Homo sapiens: one gene and its partners. The protein of the gene in region 2 purifies or fractionates together with the protein of the main gene of each other region. This does not show direct contact. Each region holds a gene or a part of one and is shown on either strand. Other genes may lie near its edges.

What was found.
Region 1: the proteins of BST1 (region 2) and DHODH purify together in Homo sapiens (affinity purification with mass spectrometry; one large-scale study listed by BioGRID and IntAct). This does not show direct contact.
Region 3: the proteins of BST1 (region 2) and GXYLT2 purify together in Homo sapiens (affinity purification with mass spectrometry; one large-scale study listed by BioGRID and IntAct). This does not show direct contact.

Annotation. Positions count from the first base shown.
Region 1 is NC_000016.10:72,011,590-72,015,243, forward strand, and holds part of DHODH (dihydroorotate dehydrogenase (quinone), mitochondrial), read left to right. Parts: intron 1-460; coding exon 461-673; intron 674-2,883; coding exon 2,884-3,083; intron 3,084-3,654. UniProt on the Homo sapiens protein: Catalyzes the conversion of dihydroorotate to orotate with quinone as electron acceptor. Required for UMP biosynthesis via de novo pathway.
Region 2 is NC_000004.12:15,726,948-15,730,212, reverse strand, and holds part of BST1 (ADP-ribosyl cyclase/cyclic ADP-ribose hydrolase 2 precursor), read right to left. Parts: intron 1-3,265. UniProt on the Homo sapiens protein: Catalyzes both the synthesis of cyclic ADP-beta-D-ribose (cADPR) from NAD(+), and its hydrolysis to ADP-D-ribose (ADPR).
Region 3 is NC_000003.12:72,953,966-72,957,619, forward strand, and holds part of GXYLT2 (glucoside xylosyltransferase 2 precursor), read left to right. Parts: intron 1-1,132; coding exon 1,133-1,384; intron 1,385-3,263; coding exon 3,264-3,387; intron 3,388-3,654.

The DNA of each region.
Region 1 (3,654 bases), on a different chromosome or scaffold from region 2:
GGTAAAATATAGTTTGGCTTAGATAATATGAACGGATAATTTTTACCCACACAAATGTCAGAATGTTCAAAAGTCACACAGGAAATGGGGCAGTTCATGTCAGATAGTCTCAAGCCAAGAAGGATGTCTGACTTTATGGATTCCTGCCCACCACATCTATTAGCATTACCCTGTCACTGTAACCAGTAGCAGTGTCCACCACGATCACCCTAGGGGACAGTACTGTCCCTCTTTAAATTTCTGGCCTGGAGTCCCAGGACAGCCTTTAGGGCCTGAAGAAGGTGTGTAGGCAGAAGTATAGATACAGCCTCTGACTGTAGAGACCAGTGTCAGCGGAAGGCTAAGGGCGTCTGTTTCATGTGACCTGCCGTTATGCCCTCTGTGTACCTGGGTGTGAAGGGCTCAGGAAGGGTGCTGCAGCCTGGCCTGGGGGACCCCCCTAATATGCTCTTTTTTGCAGAAGCGGGCCCAGGATGCTGTGATCATCCTGGGGGGAGGAGGACTTCTCTTCGCCTCCTACCTGATGGCCACGGGAGATGAGCGTTTCTATGCTGAACACCTGATGCCGACTCTGCAGGGGCTGCTGGACCCGGAGTCAGCCCACAGACTGGCTGTTCGCTTCACCTCCCTGGGGCTCCTTCCACGGGCCAGATTTCAAGACTCTGACATGCTGGTAGTGCTCCCAGACACCCTATACATTAAATACAAAGGCGAAGGCTGCAGTCCCCTAAACTTCTCAGCTGGGACTGATCTTTTTGAAAACCAGAACCCCAAGTGAGCAGTGGGGATTTGGAATTCAGTCTGAGCATTATTATTTTATGTCATGTAATTAGCAACGATGATTATCTATTACGTATATGGGATTGTGTTAGGCGGTGTTCTTGTTTGATCCTCCCAGCTGCTCCATGAGCTGGATCCTGTTACCATCCCCAGCCATGGATCAGGAAACTGAGGAACAGATTAGCAACATAAAGGAACTCAAGTCACACAGCTAGGAGGTAGCAGGACCAGGATTCAAACCCACAGAGTCTGACGCTGGCTTCCCGCCCCTTGGCCACTGTCCTGCCTTGCTGAGGTCGTGGGTAGCTCAGTCTTCCCCTCAGCTAAATGGGGAAGCTGCCAGAGTCATTAAGCACTGGTGAGAGGCAGGAGCATCGTGTCCCAGCCTCACTCAGCCACGTGTTCAGCACACGGGCCCTCTCCATATGCTTGAAATCTTTGGCCTAGAGTCCCAGGAAAGCCTCTAGGGCAGGAAGAGGGTGTGTAGGCAGAAGTGTAGATACAGCCTCTGACTGCAGAGGCCAGTGTCAGCGGAAGGCTAAGGGCCTCTGTTTCATGTGACCTTCCGGGCTTAGTGCAGCAAACCGAATAAAAGAGTCCCCATCCTCATGGAAGCTGCTTCCTCATGGAAGCCTTGGCAGTTTCCTTTCGAGAGGCTTCTTACCAAATGGGAGGACATCAGAATGATGAGTGTGAAAATGCAAACAAGAAGCCCTCAGAACTCTGGTGGGAAGGGTCACTGTTATAAATTAAAGGGGCCTTCACCGCATTTTCTCTTCCTACCTTAGACTCCTCTTCACTATCTGATTATATGGTGTTGAGCAGACGTGTCATTTCCCCTGACTGGCCATGCTCACACACTAACAGGCACTGTAGGCTCAGAAAGAGCACTCCGTTAAGGTGTCCTCACCTCAGACTGCTAGTTTGAGAGCCCTGGAACCAGTGTAAAATGGGAGTGAATAATGAGTGGGGTGCAGAGATGGGGTGAATTTAGAAGGAAGTGCGGGGTGCCTGAGGGTGCAAGCTGTGTCTGTATAAACACAGATGACAGAGACAGGCAAACCTGACCTCTGAGGTGTTGTCCTCAACACCTCTGCGTGGGCCCACACTTGCAGCAGCTCATTTAGAATGTGACTCAGACTTTTTAACCGGTAACCAGGATTCTTGATTTCACAACTTTCCTGGTTTGGCTCTCCACCCTTCACCTATGTCAGGCATGTTAGAATCCCCCGGGGGTGCACTTGGAATATTCAGATGCCCTGGCCTGGTGCCAGACCAGTTTCACCGCCACATCTGAGAGCAGGACCTGAAAGCTGCCAGGGGCCTTTGTGGTGCAGCTGGAGCTGAGAACCACGGTCCTGGAGGAAGGCCCCTACACATCTTGCCTACCAGTCTCCTGAGGTGCTGTGAGCATTCTCACCTTCATTTGTTGCTCTTCCTTCTTGGAGCATCTCTCTTAATCCCCTGCTTCCAGGATCCGACCGTGTTCACCCCGGGAGGCCTTTGCTAGTCTCCTGAAAGGTCGCTGGAGCCCATCAGTCAGTTCTGCCCAGCTGAACATCTTCCTTCCTCTGGTTCCCCGTGGGAGGCTGGGGGACGTGGCTGGGGCTTCTTGCCAGCCCGGATGAGGAGGGACACAGCTGGAGCTGATGTTTATTAAGCTGATTAAAGGGTTTTGCTGCTTGACACGCCTTGGTTTCAGGGAAGCACTATCTAGGGCCTGACACCAGCGAGCTACTCCCTCCCACCAAGGCTAGTTGATAAGAAGGTATGAACCTTAACCACAATTGGAAAAGACAGTGCTCGTCTCCGCTTCAACCCACGGTGGAAACACCATTTCTCCCCCCAGGCTTGCTAATAATAAAGCCCCGTGGTTTTCAAACTCTAGCTGGTGTCACAGTCCCCTGGAGAGCCAGCACTGTTAAAAATAGTTCCCCCAGTGCTCCATTCCACCCCCAAAGATTTTGACCTTGGGGGTGGGCCCTGGGATCTGAGGTTTCACAAGCTTCCCAGGTCATTCTGATGTAGCTGTGCCAGGAACCATGCTTTGAGAAATACCGGGATAGCCTTAGCGTGCCTCTGACTTTGTCTTCCTCTTCCCAGGAAGTGAGAGTTCTGGGCCATAAATTCCGAAATCCAGTAGGAATTGCTGCAGGATTTGACAAGCATGGGGAAGCCGTGGACGGACTTTATAAGATGGGCTTTGGTTTTGTTGAGATAGGAAGTGTGACTCCAAAACCTCAGGAAGGAAACCCTAGACCCAGAGTCTTCCGCCTCCCTGAGGACCAAGCTGTCATTAACAGGTAGGTGAGCGGCCCAGAGTTAACGGGGGATGCCCTCTTTCCAGCTGGGGGCGTTCAGAGATATAAGATCTGCCTCTGTTTTTTTTCTCTCATACAATGTGGACATTCTTCTGTCATTTGGAATGTTCAGGAACCCTGTTCAGCATCTACTATGTGCCCCAGGCATCTATCTTGAAAAGCATGCTTTGTTACGTCCATTTAACAGTTGGGTAGATGGAGGCTCATAGAGCTAAATAACTCCGCTTCGGTCACGGAGATAATAAGCAGGAGAGCTTGGGCATGGCCTGGGCTTATTGGACTTGAGAGTTTGTGCTCTGTCCATGTTGTTTCTCCAATGCTCTTACTCGACACTGTCCAGGAGAAATGTAATGTGAGCCCCATATGTAATTTAAAGTACTCTAGTGACCACATTAACACAGTAAACAGAAATGAGTGAAGTTAATACTTACTTAAAATTATAATTTATATTTAATGTTACAAGTATTTAAAAAAACGTATATTTAAAACACCATAAAAAGTATTAATTCGCTGTTTTTACCTTCTTTTGCCTGTACCAAGTCTTCAAGAGCCA
Region 2 (3,265 bases):
ACTAGTGGCCCTGTCCTTAAAAGTTCCTGACTCCATTTGAATGCTGGTCCTCTCTTTTTTGCTAAAGAAATCTGACCCACAGGTTTGTATTAGTGCTCCACCTACCGGACATTTTCTACAATTGCACCTGTGATGCAGTTAATGTCCCAGACTCGATTCACTCAAAATTTAAAATTACTTTTGCTTTCAAATAATTAACTAATTAACATAAGGTTACATTTTTCTTTACTTTTTTAAAAAATAAAATAACACATAATTAGATACACTAATAATGACAGCCTCCCTTCATCTTTTTCCAGTTTCTATTCCTTTGCCTAGAAGGAACCCACAGTTAGGTGCTTGGAGTTTACTTTCTCAGACCTATTTCTATCACTTACATCCATTATCATGCACAAATAGAAACATGCTGTTTTGCTTTCTTCTGGTTTACATGTCTCGGTTCATGTTCTGTGCATTGGTTTCTCACTTTGTAGCTTAAAAACCTTTTCTTGTCAATGTGAGACTATACTTGAGGGGGTAACTGCACTATTTGCAGTTACTTTGATTTTTAAAATTGATTCTTGTTATTACATTTATATACTCAAAAGCCTAATTTTCCCATGCCCTTTTATTTAATTTATAAATCACATTGTTCTATTTAAAAACCTGGTGAACTCTGACAATAACTCTTAAGGATTTGTCACACTTACTTAATTCCTGTGATGTTTTAAACTCAAGTTATTTCAGGTTAAGTTATTATTATTATTATTATTCTTTGAGACAGGGTCTCATTCTGTCACCCAGGCTGGAGTGCAGTGGCATGACTACAGCTCGTTGAAGCATTGACCTTCCCGGGTTTAGAGAATCCTCCTGCCTCAGACTCCTGAGTAGCTGGGACCATAGGTGCACACCAACATACCCAGCCAATTTTTTGTTTGTTTGCTTGTAGAGGCGGGGTCTCGCCATGTTGCCTAGGCTGGTCTTGAATGCCTGGGTTCAAGTGATCCTCCCGCACTGAACTCCCAAAGTGCTACGGTTACAGGCATGAGCCACTGGGCAAGGCTTCAGGTTATTTTCAACTTAAATATTAAAATATTACATCTTTTTTAAAAAATATTTTAAATGACTTTAAATTAGCAAAACTTTCTCAATTACTTGATTGTAGTAAACCTAATAAATGTATAAAATTTAATCTTAATTCTTTTACAAATTCCAATACTGGTTCAAAACTTAGTAAAATTCTCTTATAACTTCCTACTAAAAATCCCAAGCCTAAAATCAGTTACTTGGCTGAGCATGGTGGTTCACACCTATAATCCCAGCACTTTGGGAGGCCAAGGCAGAAGGATCACCTGAAGTCAGGAGTTTGAGACCAGCCTGGCCAACATGGTAAAACTTCATCTCCACTAAAAATACAAAAATCAGCCAGGCGTGGTAGCTCACACCTGTGGGCCCAGCTACTTGGCAGGCTGAGGCAGGAGAATCACTTGAGCCCAGGAGGTGGAGGCTGCAGTGATGAGCCAAGATCAAGCCACTGAACTCTAGCCTGGGTGACAGAGCAAGACTCCATCAAAAAAAAAAAAAAAAAAAGGAAGGAAGGAAGGGAAAAGAAAATTTTCCAGTAGTGCTGGCTTGCTCCTGTAGTCTCAGCCACTTGAAAGGATGAGGCAGGAGGATCACTTGAACCCAGGAGGTTGAGGTTACAATATGCCATGATCACACCACTGCACTCCATGCCTGGGTGACAGAGCGATAACCTGTCTCCAAAAAAAAAAAAAAAAAAAGAAAAAGAATTAGTTACTTAATAGTAACCCATATACTGGCATCACAGGTTTAATCCAACAGCTGTTCTTATATGCTACATTCTCTAAAATATTGCCAATAATTAAATACCAAAACATACAGATTGTCCCTAAATTTACCACAAAACTATTAATAAAATGGGTGGATTTACATCAACAGTTGTTTATTTCATTTGAAACCTTTGCAGATTAAAAGCCCTTTACCCCACTATTCCTAAACAAGTAGAGATGAGTAGTCCTGTCTCTGTGGCCTGGGGCATTTAGGATAGAGCCTTCCAGCTAAGTTAAAAGATCTGATGTTTGCCTTTGGCCCTTAGTGCCACACTGAGTCCTCATTCCAGTACTATATGTCTGTTTTCTCATATCATCACCAATCCTGCAGATTAAAAGTCTACTGAATTTTTGGCCAATATTATAACCTATAAGCGCTAAGGTTGGTTTTTTCCCCTTGGATTATTCATGGGGTCTTCTGCTTGCTGTATGATTATCCTACCATTGTCTTTAAGGGCTATATTCTACTCCCTCCAGTAAGTGTACCCTTTGATGTAACTGTTTACTTGTCAGTGGATATTTGAGTCCAGTTCCCAGTATTTCAGTATTATAAAGAATGCTCTGGAGAACATATTTGAGCATATAGGCTGTATGTGCATTTCAAATCACTTGTTTGGAATAGGGCACCAAAAGTACCCTAAAGTGTGACCTAGGTCAAAGACTGTGATATTTTTCTAATTCTTGACACATATTGTCAAATTGTTTTCCCAAAGCACTTTATCAATTTACAGTGACATCAAGCATTGAATAACATCTCTAAAACATTTTTCTGCTATGTTTTAATGTATGCCAAGAAAGTTTAGGTGAAAATGACACCTTGTTGAATTTGTTTTCCATTATTATTAGAGTGATTAAATAATTTTGTATATTTGCTATTTGTGGTTTCTCTTTTGTAAATTATCTATGACTATTCACAGCTAGAATGTTTAAAAAATAGATTAGAAAAATTCCTGCCAGGGTGATGAAAGTTGGTGAAAAACTTGGCAGAGTGAAAGAGAGTTTTATCCTTGACATTCAAAGGAATCAGCCAGAATTGTCAAAAATGTCTACCAACAGTCACTGAAAGAATGCCCACACACAGGGAAGAACAGGTCAGGAACTGCAAACCCCTTACTTACCTGCTGTGGTGTGAGACCCAGAGACATTTTAAGGCAGTGTGGTGTGGTAGGAAGAATGAGAACTTTACACACAGACAAATCTCCGTTTTGCTTCGGCCTCTGAGTAACATTAAATGATCACTTAATCCTTCTGAACCTCAGCATCATTGATGACAATCAAACTGTCTTCCTTCTAGGAATGTGGTTGGAGTAAAATGAGATGATGACTCCAGAGTGCCAGCTGGAAGCCTGACACTGCAAAGTGCTCAGAAATACTGAGGAAAACTCGGGAGGCTGAAGCAGGGGAATTGCTTGAACCCGGGAGGCGGAGGGTGC
Region 3 (3,654 bases), on a different chromosome or scaffold from region 2:
CTGTCGTCCTAGCTACTCGGGAGGCTGAGGTGGGACGACCACTTGAGTCCAGGAGATTGAGAGTGCAGTGAGCCAAGAGCATGCCACTGCACTGCAACCCGGACAACAGAGCAAGACCCTCATCTGCAAACTATATATTTTTTTAATTTTTTATTTTGAAATGGAGTCTTGCTCTGTTGCCAGGCTAGAGTGTAGTGGTGCTATCTTGGTTCACTGGAACCTCCGCCCCCTCCCCGGGTTCAAGCGATTCTTCTGCCTCAGCCTCCTGAGTAGGTGGGACTACAGGCGCACACCACCACGCCCAGCTAATTTTTGTATTTTTAGTAGAGACAGGGTTTCAACATGTTGGCCAGGATGGTCTCGATCTCTTGACCTCGTGATCCGCCTGCCTTGGCCTCCCAAAGTGCTGGAATTACAGGCCACTGCTCCCAGCCTGTGTGTGTGTGTGTGTGTGTGTGTGTGTGTGTGTATTTGTATTTATATATATTTATATATATTTTAAAAGATGCAGGGCCCCCCATTAACACTAGAAGAAATGGATCCAAAGATGGAGAGTATTTACCCCCAAGGCTTGGTATGAGCTGCTTTAGAGATTGTCCACTTCAGGTTGCAGTAAGCCAAGATCAGGCCACTGCACTCCAGCCTGGGCGACAGAGTGAGACTCCATCTCAAAAATAAATAAATAAATAAATAAATAAATAAATAAATAAATAGAGATTGTCCACTTCAGGTTTTCTAATGCCACACTGGATGTTCCAAGGAAAACCTAAGAGAGAAAAACAAGTGGCCTTATTGGAAGATGGAAGAAGTGAGAGCCACAATAATTTGCTGATGTTTTCTTTTTTTTGTAAGTTCAACCCTTATCAAATATAGTCCAGGGTCCCAGAATTGGGCTAATCCAGACCAAGATTTATCTTCTTTTAAGTCTCTACCTCTTGATTGACACTCATTCCTCAAGTCAAAGGAGAAGGAAGGAATGGAAGCTAAGAGTGGTACCTTTCCAGAATTTAATACGAATCAACAAAAGTTGGTAGCATTATTTACCTATCAGGCTACTTCCTTTGTTTCTGACCTGTTTTTGTTTTGTTTTCTTCCCTCCTCTCCCCTTTACACCCACTCCTTACACACAAAGGTGATTTTAAAGGATGTGGACTCACTTCTCTACGTGGACACCGATGTCCTCTTTCTGAGACCTGTTGATGACATCTGGAAGCTTCTGAGGCTGTTTAATTCCACCCAGCTTGCAGCCATGGCCCCTGAGCACGAAATCCCCAAGATTGGCTGGTACAGCCGCTTTGCTAGGCATCCTTTCTATGGCTCTGCAGGAGTTAATTCAGGAGTCATGTTAATGAATTTAACTCGGATAAGAAGTACCCAGTTCAAGGTAAACGAGTGCTTTAAAATTCCTTGTTTAAAGACTGGGAGTTGGTCTTGTCAACAGTGGCACTACCAGAGTGTCAATATGCTGATTTTGGAAATTGGGTGGCCTATAGGTGAGGATAAAAGGAACCAGAGAAAAGTATTTAGAAAATTATAGAATATTTGTTTATTCAGGAAAAGCTCAGATGGCAATGGAATTTAAAGCTTCAGCAAAGTCGCCATTCAGGAATACTATGTTGCATTTCTGAATTCCATAATGTTTGAACGCTTCATACCCAATGCTTCAAAGACTATGTAAAATTTCTTCAAATTACCCTAGGGATTATTTATGTAAGTCCGTGACGATATTTGTATAAGGATGTTCGTGATCTCATCTTTTATCCTAGCAAAGAAGTGGAAAGAAGCTAAAAGAACATCAGTAGAGAACTAGTCAAAAAAAATTATCCTCCTGGCCAGGGGTGGTGGCTCACACTTGTAATCCCAGCACTTTGGAAGACCAAGGCAGGTGGATCACTTGAGGCCAGGAGTTTGAGACCAGCCTGACCAACATGGCGAAACCCTGTCTCTATTAAAAACACAAAAATTAGCCAGGAATGATGGCGCACACCTGTAGTCCTAGCTATTCAGGAGCCTAAGGCAGGAGAATCGTGTGAACCCGAACAGCAGAGGTTGCAGTGAGCCAAGATCACGCCACTGTACTCCAGCCTGGCGACAGAGACTGTGATTATTTGTATGCCTTAGAAATTTCCAGAAGAATTAATGGGGCATGGTGTCACGTGGCTGTAGTCTCAGCTACTTGGGAGGCTGAGATGGGAGGATCGCTTGAGCCCAGGAGGTCGAGGCTGCATTATAGCCACTGCACTTCACCCTAAACAACAGAGTGAGACCCTGTCTCTAAAAAAAGAAAGAAAGAAAGAAAAAGACATGTCCAGAAGAATACCTAAGAGACCATTAATTGTTAACTGTGGATACGTCTGGGGAAAATGGGAATGGGATATGGAAGAAGAATATTTTTACTTTTTTATTTTATATTTTTGTGTGCTGTTTGAATAATTCAGTCTGTGAATATGTTACTTTTATTTTAAAAGTAAATCATTGTTTAAGACAAGGAAAGGTGTTTTTCCTTAAGATACCTGAACTCTGTTATCTGTATTTTGTTCCTTCACCTCACAGTGAGGAAATAAGCCTAAGAAAGATGTTCACCTAAGAAAGGTGAAGTAGAGTAGAGAATCCTGAAGTAGAGACTGCTGTTGAGAAAGACTTCGCCTCTTAGGTGTGGGGACTCACGCCTATAATCCCAGCACTTTGGGAGGGAGGTGGGTCACTCGAGGTCAGGAGTTTGATATCAGCCTCGCCAACAGGGGGAAACCCCATCTCTACTAAAAATACAAAAAGTTAGCCGGGCGTGATGGCGTGCACCCGTAGTCTCAGCTGCCTGGGAGGCTGAGGCACGAGAATCGCTTGAACCCGGGAGGTGGAGGTTGCAGTAAGCCAAGATTGTGCCACTGCATGCCAGCCTGGGCGACAGAGCAAGACTCTGTCTCAAAACAAAAACAAAAACAAAAACACAGGAAGGAAGGGAGGGAGGGAGGGAGGGAAGAGAAGAAAGGAAGGGGTTCAATTCCAGGCATGGTTTTCTGAGTAGAAACCATAGGTTCAACTTTCAGTCCCTGGTCTATCTAGTATCCGTGTGTACAGCTGAAAAAAGCGATACAATCAACAGCCCAAATTTTGCTTTGTTCTGTGACCTGAGAATAGCAGGACCCCTCCTGTATTTGTTTCCCTCCTCTGAAGGGAAGAAAACTAGTCCCTTTACATTGTTTCTCAGTGGACAAAATGTATTTGCTTTGCTTCAGCTGTTCTGATGGTTTTCTTTTTTCCAGAACAGCATGATTCCAACAGGCCTGGCTTGGGAGGACATGTTGTACCCTCTGTACCAGAAGTACAAGAATGCCATCACGTGGGGAGACCAGGATTTATTAAATATTATTTTTTATTTCAACCCAGGTAGGTTATCTTTGGAGAATGCCTTTTGTGTAGGAGTACACTCAGCACACCCCACGGAGCACATTCCATGCCCGGGTTGCTATTGACTAGGCTTGAATTGTGCACAGAGGAGCCTGTGTTCCCCAGCGAAGTTTGCCCTTTCATCCGCCCCCCTGGGTATCTGATGGAGGCGGGGCCTTGCACTACTGACACAAAAGGCCAAATGTTGAAACTTCCAACACTGGACTCATTTTTAGAGAGTATCTTTTAGGTTTTGCTATACCATTC